Homo sapiens: one gene and its partner. The protein of the gene in region 1 interacts with the protein of each later gene in a pairwise test. Each region holds a gene or a part of one and is shown in the gene's direction. Other genes may lie near its edges.

Region 1 (2,849 bases):
ACTGCACTCCAGCCTGAGCAAAAGAGAAGACTCGGTCTCAAAAAAAAAAAAAGAAAGAAACATTTTCAAAAGCAAAGCATTTACTATGAGGTGTAATGGAGGAAAAAGGAAAGGCTGGATGACTTATACACCAATAATCATTCAATATATCTATTTGTAAGTGTCAAAGGCACTTCAAAGCTGGTATGTCTTATACCAAGTACATGATCATCACTCTCCCCATGTCTGGCCTTTATCCCCATGAATGGCACCAGCATCCAGATAACTGCATTATACAGAAACAAAAGCCACACCCTTGACACCATCTGCTTTCACCTCCCAAATTCAATCCGTCACCAAGCCTTGGTCTCTTGTCTACTTTAGATCTCAATCAACACCTTTCCTGGCCAGACCTAAACCATCATCAAATCTTTCTCTCTGCTGAACCATTGATGTTGACAGTAGCATCTCCCTTTACACAGCTCCTCCAGTCAATACATCACCCACTTGGCACCCTCTAATCTCACATGCCATCCTCTTAACATTTTTAAAGGCTTCCCAATGTACTTGATCATGGTTTGATCTCTGTCTCTCCCTCCAGCCTCATCCTGTACCATGTAGGGAGTTTCCCTCTGCCCTTCTCCAGCCAAAATGACTCCGTAAGTACTTACTCACTGATTTATGTAGACATCTGATGAATGGCTTTCTCCCCAGTGGGCTGAGAGTTCCATGAGCACAGTATCTACGTGTGTTTATCCTCCACTAATTTTCTACCACCTAAATGTATGGCATATGCTATGTGATCAATATCTGTGACTGAATTTTAAAAAATGATTAGGTTAATTGTTCTGAACCAGAGCCATTTTTTCCCTCACTTCCCCAGCCTCCCAAAGAAACAGGTGGCAATGTTTGGGAATATTTTGGGTTGTCATAGCTGCCAGGCTTCTCTGGTGTCCAGTGGGTAATGGCCAGGGATGTTGCCAAACATCCTAGGGTGCACAAGACAGCCCACTGAAAGTTACCCTGCCCATTGTGTCAACAGTGCCAAGACTGAGAAATCCTGACCTAGATGAAAAAGAAGGAATATTTCTATTTTGATCATATTGAATTGGGTTCTGTAGAGTCAAGTCCTTACAGAAATAAATTTATTATCTCTGGATGCTGTGAGAGACTTAAACAGTCATGCATACACACACACTCAATGACTGTTACATTTCCTACAGGCAGGAGAAGCATATCTGAATGGTCTCTTGTACTCATCCAATGCCTGGCACAGGGCTGGGATTCAGTTTCTCAATAACACCTCTCTGGGAAAGCCTCACTTAACATAAAAAGGACCTCAAAACTGAGGGCAGCCCTTGAGCTGCACGAAAAGGACCACCTTATTTCACAAATGTGACCAAAGTGCAGCAAAGGTGAGTGACAGCACAGTAGAGCCCCGCCCACCTGCTGAGCCATGCCCCTTCCCTGTCACAATGGCCAAGGCCTTAAATACCCAGACTCCTGGCCCCCGGGCCTTGCAAAGCCCCTCATTTTGGCAGAACTTACCATGTCGACCAGCCGCAAATTAAAGAGTCATGGCATGAGGAGGAGCAAGAGCCGATCTCCTCACAAGGGAGTCAAGAGAGGTGGCAGCAAAAGAAAATACCGTAAGGGCAACCTGAAAAGTAGGAAACGGGGCGATGACGGTGAGTGAGGGATGGGGAGGAGATTGCCAAACTTAGGCACACATTGCTGCCAGGCCCTCCCTCTTGGAGGCAGCTCTCACAGGACCCTGAAATCTTGGCCTGAGATTATTTCCAATAACTAAATGCAGATTTGAGCAACAAGAGTCTTGATGGGAATGTTCTAATTCGTGTCTCTGTTGCAAACCTGTCCTTTCCCACAGCCAATCGCAATTACCGCTCCCACTTGTGAGCCCCCAGCGGGCTCTGCCCTGGTGCGCTTCACACAGCACCAAGCAGCAACAAGAACAGCAGAAGGGGAACTGCCAAGGAGACCTGATGTTAGATCAAAGCCAGAGAGGAGCCTATGGAATGTGGATCAAATGCCAGTTGTGACGAAATGAGGAATGTATATGTTGGCTGTTTTTCCCCAACATCTCAATAAAACTTTGAAAGCAGAAATGTTTACTTTGATCTTTTGGTTGGAAAGACTTGAGTTCCTGAGCTAGGTGGGTTTGGGGAAGAATTGGCCAGTATGAAACCATTAAATGTGACTTGGAAAATATCAAAAGTAATTTGTCCTCCAATTCCCTCCCACCACCGTGGGAGGTGGTCCTACTCTGGCCACACACTATTGCCGTATTTGTCTTCATCCCAGTGTGCTGTCTCTCTCCTCAACATGGAAAGGGAGAAGAGATAAAAAAGGGAGAAATGCATTCATTAGCATTAACCAAAGGATTCAAGCTGTTTTTGTTAGAGCTTAAACCAAAGGATGCAAGCTGTTTTCGTCAGAGCTTATAGCATAGAGGTGTTGAAAGCTAAACTAAATCTAAAGACTTGGCCCGGAGATAGAGATCACCTGGAGGAGCTCTTAGAAGCTCTTAATTCATTGATCATATGGGCAGTATTAGCAGGCTAAGAGATGGGAACACCTTCTGAACAGAGACCAACATGTTCTTTGTAAAGGATCCTATTGGTAACAGTGGAAGTGATGAGAGTTTAGATTTCTTTAGGTTATTTTGGTAGCTATGTTGGGCTTGAGGTGGGCAAGACTGAAGAGTGGGATATTGCCTCGTAGCATGCCATAAGCCTTAGTCCAGTGTGCCTAGAAGTAGGAATTGTCTCAATCTGAGTATTGATCATTTGACAGAGAGAGAGAGAGAGAACTGACTTTAGGGATAGAGCTGGTTCTGCTCATTTAGGAAA
Region 2 (3,823 bases), on another chromosome or scaffold:
TTTATGCAGCCAAGCAGTTGTAGCTTCTCCTGTCTCACTTATTGGTTCCCCTTTATTTATCAGCAGTGCAGACAGTTTTCTCTAGTACCCTGTACTGTTCTGTCATCTTCATCATCATCATGTTATGTTTACCTTCAAAAGCACCCAGAATCCATGCAGCCCCTGGCTTTCCCTGCTGCAGTTCCCCCTGCTTTTTTGTTTTTGTGGTTTTTGAGACAAAGTCTCCTTCTGTTGCCCAGACTAGAGTGCAGTGGCACAGTCTCAGCTCACTGCAACCTCTGCCTCCTGGGTTCAAGTGATTCTCCTGCCTCAGCCTCCCGAGTAGCTGGGATTATAGGCGTGCACCACCACGCCCGGCTAATTTTTGTATTTTTTTAGTAAAGATGGGGTTTCACCATGTTGGCCAGGCTGGTCTCGAACCGCTGGGCTCAAGCAATCCACCCACCTCAGCCTCCCAAAGTGCTGGGATTACAAGCAGGAGCCACCGCGCCTGGCCTGATCCCTCTGCTTCTTGCTTTCTCCCACCACTTCTCTCCTTACCCAAGTGCTGCAGGCCTGCACATGCAGCTCATCCTCGCTCCTCCCCTTAGAGGGAACTCAGGGTCATAAGGATATACTGCTGGGAGTAGACACCCTGCACTCGCTGCTGCTTTCAGCTGCAGGAGATCCTAGCCACAGGCGGTGACTCAGGCAGAGGAGCAAGCCCACCCCGCAGAAATGGGCTCTGGACCCCTGTGACTGCATGGAGCAGGAGGAGGCAGTTAGTGTCCAAGCTAAGGCAGGGTGAAGGCTGTGGAGGTAGCGCAGGCTCCTGTTTGGGTCTGCAGCTAAGATGGGTCTGAATCCTGGAGCCACACCACCTTGAACCTGCAAAGCAAGTCCCAGAATTTTGCAGAAGTTCTTCCTCTTCAGTGTATAGAGTTGGGTGGAGGGAGTATAGAGCCATCATTCAGTCCTTCTCATCTCACCCAGGATCACCTGGGAGTGACCAAAGTAGGCCAAATGTGATTCTAGGGCCAAAGTGAAGGTGTCCGCCATTCCCCGAGTAAGCAACTTCCTGTCTATTGGCTGGTAACTGGGATGGCTTTGGAGACACAGCCTGTCTCAGAAGAGAGGAACAGCTAACCAGGAGTGATAATTCACTCAGTGCCAGTAGCACATACTGTTCTAAATCTGAAGAAGGTAGGGAGGGTTAGAAAGCAAAGGGAAGACAGTGGGGACTAAGAATGAGTGTGGGATGTCATGAGGATTCAGGGGAGAATGCAAGGAGAAGAGACGGCCACAGGGTTTGTGGCTATGCCGCCTGCCGTGGCCCACCTCATCCCCACATCTGAGCCCAGGCAGATGGAAGTCCCCTGCAGAGCAGTGTTCTGTCCTGGAGTTTCCTCCACACCCCTTCTTGGGACCAGGGCTGTTTCCCAAATAGCATCACTGTTCCCGTGCAGGCCAGGTGAGGTGCCTGGGAGCAGGGGTAGGGTGAGGCAGGCATGGCGGTGACCTCTCAGGCAGCTTCGTTGTGGGATTTAGGGCACAGCGGGAAACGTCCAGGGCAGAGGTTGCCTCACCAGTCACATGGTACTATGTAGGCGGTGGTGTTTAATAGATTCTGTTTATCAATAAGTGGATGAAGTGGAGATAGACTTCCTTGTTCAGTCATTGAAACAGGAGAGAGGGTTACTTGACATAATCACTTTGTGTTAAAGCTGTAGTGTATGAAAAGTTCCCAAAAATTCTACAAGACAAGCAACCTAGCAGGAAAATCAGAACAGGTAACAGTAAGACAAATACGAATGGCCTGAAATCCCGACAGGTTTTTCAGTCTAACCAACTCAAAGAAAGCACCTTAAGTTGCAATGCCATTTCACCTGTCAGATGGGTGGGGAGGACTTGGTCCTCCCACCACCAGGGGTGAAAGGGTAGTGTGGGCCAACACTTCTTAATGTGTGATTCTTTTTTTTTTTTTTTGAGACAGAGCCTGGCTCTGTCGCTCAGGCTGGAGTGCAGTGGCACACGATCTCAACTCACTGAAACCTCTGCCTCCCGGGCTCAAGCGATTCTCCTGCCTCAGCCTCCCAAGTAGCTGGAATTACAGGCGTGCACCACCGTGCCTGGCTAATTTTTGTATTTTTAGTAGAGATGGGGTTCCACTGTGTTGGCCAGGCTAGTCACGAACTCCTCAGGTGATCCTCCCGCCTCGGCCTCCCAAAGTGTTGGGATTTCAGGTGTGAGCCACCACACCTGGCCAAGTGTGCATTTCTTTTACCCTGCATTCCCACTTCTAGGAACGTGTCCTGTGTAAGTACTTGCTCAGCATGCTCAGAGATTCCCATGCCAGCTTATTTACTGCAGGACTGCTCATAAGAGCAAAAATAGGAACGTGCCCATCTGTGGGGAACTGGTTATGTAAACTGTGGTAGAGCCATATGGTGGAATACTCTGGAGTCATTGAAAAGGATAAGGCTGGTTTATATATATATTAAATAAGTTCCTGACAAGTTGGGGATCCCATTGTTTAAAATCCTTATGTTTCATAGAAGGCACCGGAAGAGTCTATACCGAAGGACTCAGGGGCTAACTCTGAGGAGCAGGATCATGGTTAAGGAGGCTGTGTCATAAGATCCTGCATACCCTTCTGTGTTTTTCTCAACAAGTCTGCACTACTTCCATAATTTGAAAGGCAACTGTACTTTTTTTAAGGGTAAAATTAACTGTTTAAAAGGGGGGTGAGGATCTGGCAGGTGAGGGGCCCTGGAGACAGAGCCTGATCATGTGTCCAGAGCAGAAGGGCTTGGAGATCACAGAGACCAGGGCAGGCATCCCAGGTCTGTCACTGTGAGCTGTAGCCCTCGCCAGTGCCATCACTTCTCCAAGTCTCATTCTCTTCACCTTTATAGGCTGTGTCCTACCCAGCCTGAGGGCCAGCCAGGTGAGAGTCAGTGGGGGTATGTGACACATCGCAGGTCTCAGCACCTGCTAGTTCTCTGCCCCATCCCCATGAGTTATTACTTTGGCCTCGGGAGTCCCCTGAGGGACCCATAAGGACAGCGCACAGCTTTGAGCCCTGAAACAGCAGGAAGGCTCCACAGTCACCCCTGACCACCCTCCTCAGCAGTTCAGCACTGACTCTCAGTGCAGATATTGAGCTCAACACCTGCCATGCACCTTCTCACCCTCCCCCCAGCCAGGCAGGACAGACCTTCCCATCAACAAGGAAACTGAGGTTACCAGAAACCCACTTGCCAGGGTCCCCTGGGCGTGTAGGAGTAGAGACAGCTAGAGCCAGGATTCACCTCCCATTCCCATTCTCATCCCTCCTGCTTCAGTGACATCCATCCCAATCACCCTTGAGAAAGAGGAAGATAAAGTGTCCTTCCTCCTGGCCTCAGCACCTCCTCACTTGGCAAGCACTTGGTGGGCATCAGGCTGGGCCCAGCACTGTGCCCAGGGCTGGCCATACAGTGGTGGACAAGGCTGAGTGCCTGTCCCAAGGAGCCCACAGTTCAGGCAAACAGGACAGCAGAAGTAAAGAGGCTGCTCAGTAACCCAGCCTCAAATCCCTGCAGAATTTGGCCTGACTTCAGAAGCTGCTGGGTGCTTGTTTGCCTGTGAGCTCTGCCAGCAAAGTAAATAGACCAATCGGGCGCCTCCTGGCTGTCTTCACAGCCATGACAACGGCATTCTCCCAGCATTGGAGGCTAGATATGCAGGAGAGCTCTCAGCCACAAATGATGTGAATAAGGTCAATAGTGTCTATTTGCTGAACTTGTCATCAAAGATGGTGAAACTGATACTTTACTCTCTGGGTGAGAGGGCTAGTGTTTAC

What was found.
Region 2: the proteins of TNP1 (region 1) and PPARD interact in a two-hybrid assay, tested with the Homo sapiens proteins (one study listed by BioGRID).

What each region holds. Positions count from the first base shown.
Region 1 is NC_000002.12:216,858,714-216,861,562, reverse strand, and holds TNP1 (spermatid nuclear transition protein 1), read left to right. Parts: upstream 1-1,498; 5' UTR 1,499-1,528; coding exon 1,529-1,667; intron 1,668-1,867; coding exon 1,868-1,896; 3' UTR 1,897-2,105; downstream 2,106-2,849. UniProt on the Homo sapiens protein: Plays a key role in the replacement of histones to protamine in the elongating spermatids of mammals.
Region 2 is NC_000006.12:35,411,735-35,415,557, forward strand, and holds part of PPARD (peroxisome proliferator-activated receptor delta), read left to right. Parts: intron 1-3,823. UniProt on the Homo sapiens protein: Ligand-activated transcription factor key mediator of energy metabolism in adipose tissues. Receptor that binds peroxisome proliferators such as hypolipidemic drugs and fatty acids.